Homo sapiens: one gene and its partner. The protein of the gene in region 1 purifies or fractionates together with the protein of each later gene. This does not show direct contact. Each region holds a gene or a part of one and is shown in the gene's direction. Other genes may lie near its edges.

Evidence for each region.
Region 2: the proteins of PENK (region 1) and ANAPC4 purify together in Homo sapiens (affinity purification with mass spectrometry; 3 studies listed by BioGRID and IntAct, with this or other methods). This does not show direct contact.

What each region holds. Positions count from the first base shown.
Region 1 is NC_000008.11:56,438,952-56,443,641, reverse strand, and holds the end of PENK (proenkephalin-A preproprotein), read left to right. Parts: intron 1-1,704; coding exon 1,705-2,370; 3' UTR 2,371-2,685; downstream 2,686-4,690.
Region 2 is NC_000004.12:25,386,252-25,394,756, forward strand, and holds part of ANAPC4 (anaphase-promoting complex subunit 4), read left to right. Parts: intron 1-2,248; coding exon 2,249-2,323; intron 2,324-2,465; coding exon 2,466-2,492; intron 2,493-2,586; coding exon 2,587-2,631; intron 2,632-3,884; coding exon 3,885-3,969; intron 3,970-4,659; coding exon 4,660-4,764; intron 4,765-6,086; coding exon 6,087-6,170; intron 6,171-7,553; coding exon 7,554-7,640; intron 7,641-8,058; coding exon 8,059-8,123; intron 8,124-8,419; coding exon 8,420-8,462; intron 8,463-8,505. UniProt on the Homo sapiens protein: Component of the anaphase promoting complex/cyclosome (APC/C), a cell cycle-regulated E3 ubiquitin ligase that controls progression through mitosis and the G1 phase of the cell cycle.

The sequences.
Region 1 (4,690 bases):
ATATTTACTGAGCTTCTACCATGAGAAAGACACTTATGATTGGTACTGTGGTGGATGCAGAGATGAGCAGGCGTGCTATGGCTGATGTCCAGATAGAATTTCCCATCTAATGTGATCTTGACCATACCACACAAAGTGTGGTAAATACCACAAAACATGCATACATGGTTATAGGAGCCATCAGTTAACATCGCTACCTTAGTACGAGTGCATTATTCTGATATTTGTTACTATTTGGTTTTGAAGGAATCTCACATCACATACATTTAAAAATCTTTTGGTATTAGTATGCAAAACATTCAACATTAATTTTTAACAACAAGATCACTTAGATACAACTTTAGAATGGAAATATTATTGCTCCTTAAATATCTTAAGCTTCTAATGGTGTTTTTATTTGTTCATCATATGTCAGGAATAAAATAAGACATTTTAATTATTAATGGATCATCTTTAGATTCTTACGTAGTTATATATTTAATCTTCTCAGACACGAAGCTTAAATACTCATTAAGAGCTTACTAAATACGTGCCTTCAAGATTTTGTTGCACTAATAAAATGCTTTCTTTCATTGTGAAAATAATATATGTGTATTTAACATCACTTAATATACCAGTATATTTTTAATAATACCAAGAAAGACTTCAGAGGGCTGTAAAAAACTCCTGAAATGCTAAGAAATATCATGCATGTTTTGTAAATGTTCACATATTAGTACTCTCTTTATCATACCCAAGTGATGTGTTAAATAGAAAAAAACTTAAGATCATTCGAATGTATAGACTTACAATGATTTTATATTTAATATTTATATAAGAAAAAGGAAAGAATGTATGCTGATGATTCCTATTTTACCAAACACCATGATTTCCATTGAAAAATACTTTTTCTGTACAACAGTGACTAAATGTGAAGAAAATAAACATGAATAATTTGTGCACTTGCATTTGTATAATTTTATATCTGATCTCATCATTATAGACATTTTGTTCAAAATAATAAAGTCTGTTGTATCCAGCAAAGAAAAAAGGAAAAAAACAAAAGATCTGTACTTACAACAAATTAACAAATTAATAAGAATGCAAATAATTCATCAGATTTAAATTGAGTTTTTAGGATGTGTTTATAAACTTTTTTTAAATTGTTGTTTTTCTTTGAAGATTGAAAGTATTTGCAGGAATACTCGATACCATTTTAGGTAAAATATTAACACAAGAAAGCAAATGACCCTTAGGTTATTAATATTGATTTTATCTCTAAGACAAGAAGATAAAAGGAATTTTGAGGAAATATCCCTGATTAGGTAAATAAAAATTTCTCCTTTTTGGTTAGAAAAATCTCAAACAAAATTATATCAGAAGTGGAAAATTATCCAGTGAAATTAGATTGTGAAAGCAGTCAATCTAAGTTAAAACTGCATGGAAAATTTTTTTTTAAATTCTTTAAAATTTCTATGGGTTTAAAATCCAAAGGCAGATTCCTAACTGGATTCAGTGAACCCCTCCACTTTCACCTTTCCAAATTTTATTTGTTTCATTTGCATGCTCAGCCTTATGAAAAGTCGTGATAAGAAATTGGAGATGACCTTATTATAATAAGGAAGTTATGATGTCAAAGCAAGCATATTTTGGTCCACAAAAGTTCATTTGCTTAATGAAATCACAGAAGCTTCTTTTTATCATTACATCAAATTGTTTTCCCAGGCTTGCGTAATGGAATGTGAAGGTAAACTGCCTTCTCTGAAAATTTGGGAAACCTGCAAGGAGCTCCTGCAGCTGTCCAAACCAGAGCTTCCTCAAGATGGCACCAGCACCCTCAGAGAAAATAGCAAACCGGAAGAAAGCCATTTGCTAGCCAAAAGGTATGGGGGCTTCATGAAAAGGTATGGAGGCTTCATGAAGAAAATGGATGAGCTTTATCCCATGGAGCCAGAAGAAGAGGCCAATGGAAGTGAGATCCTCGCCAAGCGGTATGGGGGCTTCATGAAGAAGGATGCAGAGGAGGACGACTCGCTGGCCAATTCCTCAGACCTGCTAAAAGAGCTTCTGGAAACAGGGGACAACCGAGAGCGTAGCCACCACCAGGATGGCAGTGATAATGAGGAAGAAGTGAGCAAGAGATATGGGGGCTTCATGAGAGGCTTAAAGAGAAGCCCCCAACTGGAAGATGAAGCCAAAGAGCTGCAGAAGCGATATGGGGGCTTCATGAGAAGAGTAGGTCGCCCAGAGTGGTGGATGGACTACCAGAAACGGTATGGAGGTTTCCTGAAGCGCTTTGCCGAGGCTCTGCCCTCCGACGAAGAAGGCGAAAGTTACTCCAAAGAAGTTCCTGAAATGGAAAAAAGATACGGAGGATTTATGAGATTTTAATATCTTTTCCCACTAGTGGCCCCAGGCCCCAGCAAGCCTCCCTCCATCCTCCAGTGGGAAACTGTTGATGGTGTTTTATTGTCATGTGTTGCTTGCCTTGTATAGTTGACTTCATTGTCTGGATAACTATACAACCTGAAAACTGTCATTTCAGGTTCTGTGCTCTTTTTGGAGTCTTTAAGCTCAGTATTAGTCTATTGCAGCTATCTCGTTTTCATGCTAAAATAGTTTTTGTTATCTTGTCTCTTATTTTTGACAAACATCAATAAATGCTTACTTGTATATAGAGATAATAAACCTATTACCCCAAGTGCATAATATCCTTGTAAGTCTCTTTTTCTCCAAGGCTCTCATTTACCTTTGGGTTTCCGCATCAATCCTAGACTCAGGGACAGTAGAACCATCTGCTTTTGACATAATTTTGACATCATAATCATTGTCTTTCTTCTCCTTCAGCCAAGGCTCAAAAACATTTTTTATTTAATTCCTCACAGCATGAAATCTTAGATTAGTAAACACGTGGGAGCAAAATAAAATGTATTTTCACTCTCATTTCTGGAAATCAGATACATGAAGAAAAACCAAAGCCTAATAAAGGAGCCAGCTATGCCCCCATTAAACACACACACACACACACACACACACATACTTGCATTTACATCAGATGTGTATGTCTCTTTTCTTCAGTAAAGTATTTTAGAAGTTAGTAAGAAATTAAAGATAATTTAGTCCAATTTTACAAATGAAGAAAGGGAAGCCAAGAAAGGTTGTGTAGTTGGCCCAAAGTTGCCCAGCAGTTGAAGGACAAAAATAGGATTAAAACCCCAAACTTTTTGTGCCCAGTCAATATCCTTTTCACTGCGGTTCCTTATCTCCTATCCACGTCACTAGTAAGAATTGTAAGAACGTGGAACTACATCTTAGTCACCATTGTACACCTCTACACTATGACTGTAGCAGATTCTCCAATATCGGATGAATGGATATATGAATGATGAATAAATTAATTTGGTGACCAGATAATGAGGAAAGATATTGTGAGTGTTTTGTAAGGTAAATCCCCAAAACACAAGGTGCTTATGACTACTTCATATTAATGAGACAATGCTCAGATATAAGAAATGTAACTTTTCATTTTTCTTATTATTATTATTATACTTTAAGTTTTAGGGTACATGTGCACAGCATGCAGGTTTGTTACGTATGTAAACATGTGCCATTAACTCGTCATTCTGGTTTCTCTTCAGATCGTGCAAATCTTTCGCCTTTAACTTTTCATTTTTCTAACTGAAACAACATACGGCTTAACCCCTACTCACTAAATCATTTTTCCAGGACCCCCACCAACCCTTTCTCTTGTGTTTCTCAAAACATTGGAATTTAGCAACTCTGGAAAGTGGGGGACGAGTCTCTGGTCTGCAGTCTACCAAGGCTGCTGCCGAGATGCTCACTGTGCAAGCCTGTGTGCCCCATCTGATAAGGCAGCTGCACTGTGCTCGGCAGTTTGTTCTCTCTGTACAGCCCCGCCAGGGCTCACAGGACATCCACATGATCATGCTGTTAGGAGACCCATCTCCTGGAATTAGTGCAAGGAATCACAGGGCCCCACACTCACAGAGCCCCAACTCCATCAATCTTCCTGATCCTTGGTAAACTAATTTTTTCTTCCAGGCAAAGCCCGGGAGGAAAAAAGATAATACAATAATTATTGATAAGATAATGCCATTATTATCTCACAATAGTCCAATATGTATACTTACATATCTCATACAATGTGTTTGAGAAAATAACAAAGTTCACCATCAGACAAATACATTTTTCAAAGCAAGCGCAGTTTCATGCGCGTCGGTGTGAAGAGACCACCAAACAGGCTTTGTGTGAGCAATAAAGCTTTTAATCATCTGGGTGCAGGCGGGCTGAGTCCGAAAAGAGAGTCAGCAAAGGGAGATAAGGGTGAGGCCATTTTATAAGATTTGGGTAGGTAAAGGAAAATTACAGTCAAAGGGGGGTTGTTCTCTGGCGGGCAGGTGTGGGGGTCACAAGGTGCTCAGTAGGGGAGCTTTTGAGCCAGGACGAGCCAGGAGAAGGAATTTCACAAGATAATGTCATCACTTAAGGCAAGAACAGGCCATTTTCACTTCTTTTGTGGTAGAATGTCATCAGTTAAAGCAGGAACTGGCCATCTGGATGTGTACGTGCAGGTCACAGGGGATATGATGGCTTAGCTTGGGCTCAGAGGCCTGACACACAGTTCTTTTTTTTTTTTTTTAGAGATGAGGGCTCACTTGGTTGCCCAGGCTGGAGTGCAGTCGCTAGCTCA
Region 2 (8,505 bases), on another chromosome or scaffold:
ACCCAGGCCAGAGTGCAGTGGTACAATTTCAGCTCACTGTAGCCTCTGCCTGCAGGGTTCAAGTGATTCTCCTGCCTCAGCCTCCCGAGAAACTGGAATTACAGGTGTGTGCCACCATGCCCAGCTAATTTTTATATTTTTAGTGGAGACGGGATTTCACCATGTTGGCCAGGCTGGTCTCGAACTCCTCTCAAGTGATTTGCCCTCCTCGGCCTCCCAAAGCTCTGGGATTATAGACGTGAGCCACCATACCCAGCCGAAGCTCACCATTTTATATGGCCATGGTTTGTGGCACCCCTAAACAATTATAATAGTAACATCAAAGATTACTGACCTCAAATCACCATAACAAATAATATAATAATGAAAAAAATTGCAGTATTGCAAATATTTCAAAATGTGACACAGAAGTACAACGTGAGCACATGGCTGCTGGAAAAAGGACTCCAATAGACTTGCTTGGCTGATAGACTTGCTTGACACAGGGTTGCCACAAACTTGATTTGTGAAAAATGCAGTATCTGGGAAGCAGGATGAAGGGAAGCACAATTGAAGGAGATATGCCTGTATTTTCTTGTTGAAGCAGTAAACCTGAATAGCTAAGAGTTTTCTCCTCTTTCTAGTCATTTCATACTCCAAAAATAGTTACTGAGGCACAAAAAACAAAGCTCTAGACGAGATAAATGGTGAAATGGAAAACAACCTCAATTTGCCAATCAGTAATTTTAAAGTTTTATTAATTAATACATATATTAATTTCCATTTCATGATTTATATCATCTGGAACTTTTTTTTGTGTCTCAGTAAGTATTCTTAGAGTATGAAAAATGCTAAGTTGAGCATTCTGTCTAATGCTGGACAGGTTTTTTCTTTGTCCATGGTCCTGATAATTTCCTTGTTTCATAAAAATAATTCTGCATTAGTGTGTGTAGTCAAGTAATACACCAGGGTTGTAGTGAAGAAGGCCGGAGGAATCAGTGGGTTTGGCTAATACTGAAAACAAAAATTGTTTTTCTTTTTTGGGGAAATATGCTAATTTTCTTACCATTAACTTTTCCTTTCTAATTAAGTTATACTAAGGTAATATCAAATGAATTTGTAAATCCTGAATATTAATTGCCAGCTTTCCTAAGGGAAGCCTGAAAGAATTGGATGACAAGGGTTTGACCTGGGGTTTGAAATTCACTGTAGATAAACCAGAGTGATAAATCCATCATCAGATAATGAAGGATTACAAATCGTTATGTGAATATGTAGAATGTTAGAGGGTCAGAGCATATCATGTAATTCCTATTCCAGCCCGGTTATCTGCTGTGTGTATTCCCAACATACTTTCTACTAACAGTTTAGAAGTGTTATGTGGCGATTCCAGGGTCTCTCAAGACAGCTCCTTTTTATTAAAGTAGGAAAAAATACTTGCTAAATCACCACTTTTTTACTTGCTTACTCATTTATTTCCAACCTTATTTGGAGTTAGAATTGAGAAGGAAAAGGGGGTAAATAAGACTATTTCAAAAGGCATGGTGTAGTCTCAAATACCTGTTGGATTATCAAATCCACAAGTGTGTATAAGTCATAGAACCAATAACTAAATCACATAGTAGGCCATGCATAGTGGTTCATGCCTATAATCCTAGCACTTTGGGAGGCTGAGGCAGGAGGAAGGAGTTTCAGACCAGTCTGGGCAACATAGTGAGACCCCCATCTCTAAAAAAAAAAATGTATATATTAGCTGGGTGTGGTGGCTTGCACCTGTAGTCCCAGCTACTCAGGAGGCTGGGGCAGGATGATGGCTTTAGCTCAGAAGGTGAAGGCTGCAGTGAACCATGATCACACCACTGCACTCCGGCCTGGGTGAGACCCTGTCTCATAAATAAAAGATAGTGCTACTCTTAGTAGTCATATGTTTGGTGTGAGTTCTTAAATGAGAGTTAAGAAATCATAAATTCTCAGTATCTGAGTACATATGAATGCATTTCATATGCTAAGAAAAGTGTTTATTAATATCATTTCTCTAAATGTAACGTGTGCAGGCTGATGTTTTTTTTCCCCTAAAATAACAGAAATTCCTACTTTTCAATTTCCTATTTGGGACTGTTAAACTGACTACAACTGTATAGTATTTGTGTCATCTATTTACTTGATAATGTTGTAAAACTGGGTATCTTTTTTAAAAATTAGCATTTTTAATGGCAAGAGAAGTAAAATCTTTGGTGTTTTTATAATGCTTTTATTTTTTCCTTTTTAGTGTTCTCACATCATTTTATAATGCTGAGGATGAATCAAATCTTCTCTTACCTAAACTACCTACACTGCCAAAAAAGTATGTATCACTGGTTTCTTTGAAATTAATCTTGCAGATTTCTCTTTCTTCTGCTTTTAACACTGTGACAATTTTCTCATGCGTTTTAAAATATGTATTTTTACTAAGAGTATTTTTTACCTTAATCTCTGTTTCCTTCTAGCTATAGCAACACCTCAAAAATATTTAGGTAAGATACGCCTTTTCTTGTTTTCAAGTAAGATAATCTGCTATTATTTGGAAGACAGAATTGAAAGATGACCCAATTTACTTCTATATTTTAGTGAAGAAAATTCTGATGAAATTATTAAGCTCTTGGGAGACGTCAGGTAAATCTTACAGATAAATAAGTCTAATTTCTTAAAGTTATTTCATATTTGAGGCAGTTTTCAGAAGCTTTAAGAGCAAATCCTTTATTTGCCATTTTATTTCATTGTTTTTTGTTTTTGTTTTCTTTTTGAGATGGAGTCTCTGTCACCCAGGCTGGAGTGCAGTGTCGTGATATTGGCTCACTACAACCTCTACTTCCTGGGCACAAGCGATTCTCCTGTCTCAGCCTCCTCCGAGTAGCTGGGACTACAGGCACGCGCCACCACACCCAGCTAATTTTTTTTTTTTTTTTTTGAGACGGAGTCTCGCTCTGTTGCCAGGCTGGAGTACAGTGGCGTTATCTCGGCTCACTGCAACCTCCGCCTTCCTGGTTCAAGTGATTCTTCTGCCTCAGCCTCCCGAGTAGCTGGGACTACAGGCACCCGCCACCAGGCCTGTCTAATTTTTTTATTTTTAGTAGGGACGGGGTTTCACCATGTTGGCCAGGATGGTCTCGATCTCTTGACCTCGTGATCCACCCGCCTTAGCCTCCAAAAGCGCTGGGATTACAGGCGTGAGCCACCGCGCCTGGCCTAATTTTTGTATTTTTAGTAGAGACGGGGTTTCACCATGTTGGCCAGGCTGGTCTCAGACTCCCAACCTCAGATGATCCACCCGCCTTGGCCTCCCAAAGTGTTGGGATTACAGGCATGAGCCACCGCACCTGGCCTTATCGTTGACATTAATACCTTCAAACAATATATAGACCTTAATATCTATTATTGTTTTTATTGTGTGGCCTTTCGTTTTATGAAGTTTTAATAATAATATGATGTACATATGTTTATTTTAATAAGTTAAAGGATATAAGTACTAGAGTTTCTAAAATTTTAAGTATTCATGTTTTTTAAGCCCATTTAATATATTTAGCATCATAACCATGATAAAACTGATGGCACTTTGTATTAGTTGGTAAAAGGATTGTTTTGTTATTGAGAGTGTATAAATATAGTTGTTATTAAAATAATGTATTCTTATTTTACTGTAAGCTGATTTTTTTTTAGGCTAGAGGAAATTTGTGTTCTTTGAAAAAAGGAATGAGCCTGATGTGACTGAATATTGAGTGTTAGTGGATTTGATGTCTCACTTCCCTCTGCAGGGGAGCTTTAGCATGTAGATTATATGAAAGCAGTAATAATTTATATCTCGCTTTAACAATGCAATCATCTGTGTTGTTGATTGGTTCTCAGCTTGTTGCATTGTTTTTAATTAGGCTTAATATTCTCGTCCTTGGAGGAAGCTCTGGATTTATTGAGCTTTATGCTTATGGAATGTTTAAAATTGCTCGAGTCACAGGGGTAAGATTTCTTTAACATTTTCTCTTCCTAAATTATTTCTCTTAGAATATACTAGGTACTTATGGAAAAAGAATAAAACACTAGGTTTTTTTTCAGTTTCGATTTTTGGAATTATTCTTAAATGTTCAGAGACTAATTTCCTTACTAAGATAAAATAATTGTGATATGTCTATAAAGATTGGGAGCTATTTGTGGAATTAGTCAAGTTTTTTTTTCTTTTTCTTTAACAGAAAGATTAGTATGATACACTTGATTATGATTTGATGTTTTTCTAGTGTGAGATGTAAAAGAGCTTCAATTTGTGATTGGAATGTAAATCTTCAGAAGCATTCTTAAGTCCAGTACTGACTGTACTATAGTTGCTACGTCTCAGTCTTCTCCATAGCTTTTTCATCAGACTCTTACACTCGCAAAAGGGGTAGAAAATATTGTAGGCTCTGTGGAATATGTTGGTTCTGCAGCACTTGATTTGAGACTTGGGTAGGGGTGAGGGAACCAGGTTATTTTTGTGGCCTTGTAACTAGAAAGGTCCATGCAGGCAGACACCTACCTTCATCTGCTACATGTGTGTGGCTGGAGCTGGGAATTTGTTTCTGCTTTTTAAAGCTCTGAGTTTTTGCTTTCTGCATGATAATCAGCTTCAACCTAGCAGTGATACTAAATATACTAAGGGGTTTGACTCTTTTACAGATTGCTGGTACTTGTCTTGCATTATGTTTATCAAGTGATTTGAAATCATTATCAGTGGTCACAGAAGTCTCTACCAATGGTGCTTCAGAAGTTTCATACTTTCAGGTGAGTATTGGAACTTGATAACGGTAGAGAGTAAATATGTATTTAACAGGTTTTATATAGGTTTTTATCCACATCTCACTGTATTGTAATGATCATTAAAATAATGCAAAAAAATCGACTTGGAATTTCTACATCCTAATATACTGAGTGTTATTATAGTGAATACCATATTATTCTTCCCATGCTCCAATACAGTTTTCATAAAAAGTGTTTTGGTGGTCTATTAATGACCATATTAATTTGTTGCTATTCCAGTTTGACTTTGTACCAAGTGTTTGCTTAGGACTCTGTCCCTGATAATAACAAAGGTTAATATTTATTGATTGTTTAATATGTGCCATATGCTGAATGCTTCAGAACAGTTGATTTGAATCTTCACAGCATCATAATAGGCAGATACTGTTATTATCCCCATTTTATAGGTAAGTACATGGACACACAAATACTTCAGAACTTGCTTGATGTCACAGGATGGGAAAGTGATGCTAGACAATCTGGCTGCATAATCTGTGCTCTTAACTAGCACATTGCATCTTGTGTAAAATGATCACTTAATATTGGGAAAATGCTTTATTGCGTGCTGTCTGCATTGTAGATTAAGGAAGCTAACTGGGCTCCCATAGAGTATTTAGATCATAGCCTTGCCAAGAAATCGAAAATTTTCATCTTAAATATCCCAGCCACTTAAGTATGTGTGAACTCTCAAACAAAAGTAGAACAAAAAAGATGCAAGATGCAATGTGTGTGATGTCTTCCAACATTCTCTTTGTATTCAGAGCATCAGAGAACTCTTGGTTTACTGTTCACTATGGTAATGGTTGTTCATATTTGCTCATCTTCTTAAGGTTATGTGAAACTATGATCACCAGGATTGCATTTGGATTATAATAAAATGATTCACTACTACTGTGAAGTTGGTAACAGATCATTTTTAATGACAAATTTATTAAGATACAATTCATATACCATTGATAGATATTTTCCCAATATTTATCAGTAGCCTTTAATTCCTTATACTTCCTTTAAGTTTTTACATATATTTGTGATTTAAACATTTCTTTGTAATACTGTTTCAAAATAGGTTATATTACATTTATTCTATCTACACAGGAGGGGTTGATAACCCAGAGAGAGTGATTTGTGTATGGTTATGTGTAGGTTAGGAGATCCTAAGGCTATGTGCTGTTTCCAAACCGTTCTGCTCAAAGAGGGCACAATTCTGACATAGTCTTTCTGATACGTAGTTTGACCCACACTCTAAATTACAGACTTTGCAGCAAGTGCATCTGATGATGACTCACTTTACTCTTTTGATTTTACAGCTTGAAACTAATCTGTTGTACTCTTTCTTACCTGAAGTAACTCGGATGGCCAGAAAGTTTACTCATATTTCAGCTCTGTTACAGGTATTTATTTAGAGCTTGTTTTATGTGAATATTTATTATCGGCTTCTAAAGTTCTGTAAATAAAAAGCTTCAAAATTTTGTTTTGTAAAGCTTTCTGAAGTAGAGGTATCTAGTCTGATAGATGATCTTATAAGGTCCATTAAAGCAGGAAAAGGACATTTAATTGAGAACCTACTTTCACCGCACCCTATTTTCCACCTCCAAAAGAGTTTAAATCTTTTAAAATACTCCCATAAATAAAATACCATTTACATTATAAAGTATTGTGGGAAAAACAGTCTTCACATGAGTTTACATTTGTTCATAATAAACCCACCCCAAATTACCTCCCAATTCTGTAGGTTGGTGATTTAGGCTCAGCTTAGCCAAGATGTTTGGGTGACCTGGAGAAGGTTCAGCTGATCTTGACTAGACTTGGTCATGCCAGCTGGTATGTGTCCCTTGGCTGTGATTCCTTGTCTCTACTCCACATCCTTCATACTCCAGCGAGCCAGCACAGGCTTGTCCACATGGTGGTGGTAACGGGGCATCGAGGGTGCAAGTGGAAGTGTACAAAGACTTTTGAGGCCCTGGAGTCAACAGTGTTATTTCTGCTGCATTCCGTTAGTCAAAGCGAGACTCAAGGGCTGAAGAAATGGACTCTGCATCTGACTGGAGGGGCTACAAAAGATTGTGGCCATGTTTTTCATTCTACCACAGTCATTAATTTATTTGATATTAAAGGTTTCTAGAGATCAGTATCTTTTTAAAATTGAATAATTGACCAAACCAGTATTTTGACAGTTAGTGTAGATAAGACATATCTTATATAAAAAGCTTGGAGATATTTGTTTCACCAGATAAAAATTTAAGAATGTTTTATTATGAAATTCTAAGAATCAATGGAATGTTTCGTAGTTAAGTGATGACCAAGCTGTTGTCTTTTTCTCCATCTTAACTGAGTTAAAAGAGTGATTGAGGCTGGGCACAGTGGCGCACACCTATAATCCCAGCACTTTGGGAGGCTGAGGCAGGTGGATCACTTGAGGCTTGGAGTTCGAGACCAGCCTGGCCAACATGGTAAAGCCCCGTCTCTACTAAAAATACAAAAATTAGCTGGGCATGGTGACGCACGCATATAATACCAGCTACTTGGGAGGCTGAGGCAGGAGAATCGCTTGAACCTGGGAGGCAGAGGTTGCAGTGAGCCAAGATGGCGTCACTGCACTCCAGCCTGGACGACAGAGCAAGACTCTGTCTCGATAAATAAATAATAAAAATAAAACAGTGATTGAAAGTAAATTCTAGATTTCTTTGAGACACTTGATCATAAGCACATATTATTTAGATAGCAAGTTGGTTTAAATATTTTTTACCATTTCAATTTTTCTTTTTTGCTAATAGTATATAAATTTGTCACTAACATGTATGTGTGAAGCATGGGAAGAAATACTAATGCAGATGGATTCTCGTCTCACCAAGTTTGTGCAGGTAAAGCAGCTGAAGTTTCCCATGGAGAGAGTTAAAGAATGCATGATGTATGTCTTTACCTTGAGGTACATGAGAAAAATCAGTTTGATTCATAAAAGGCTAAGATCATAATTTCTTTCAAATGGCTTCGTCTGACTTCAAACTGCTTCCTCAGATTTGCCAAAAGGGCTCTTTTCCCATTGATACAACTTAAGTGGGGACAGGATTGTGAAGTGGAGCTGGTGGGGCTTTGGCAATAAGGGCAGGTGTTAGAACAGCTGATTGGCTATCTTCTAGTCACTGATGTTCAGATGATCACTTTATGGATTTGATGGAAGTCTAAGGCAAGGAAAGGGAGTCATGCTCCTATAATTTTGAATAAATATGCTTATAATTTAAGAAATACATATATCACAATTTTTTTTTCACTTTTTTCCAGGAAAAGAACACAACCACATCAGTGCAAGATGAGTTCATGCACTTGCTATTATGGGGGAAAGCAAGGTAATAAACTCAGATTAGGTGCTCCTGTTTTTGCTTCTTTTTTAACAGTAATTATTTATTTGAAAAGTAGTTTATAGTCATAGTATGTGATTTTTTTAATTGATACATAATATTTTAATTGATACATAATGTGTTACATACTTACGGGGTATATGTGATGTTACATGCGTAGAATTTTTTGTGGGGCTATTTCTTTATTTTGTTTCTTGTTTGTGCTTCGAAATTTAAAAGTTGTAAGTGATGCATTCAGATTTCCAATAGAGAAGTGACTAAAAATACTTTGTTTTTCATTGTAGTGCTGAACTTCAGACTCTCTTGATGAATCAGTTAACAGTAAAGGTGCAGTTAATGTATCTATGTATTCAAATGGCTATGAACACAT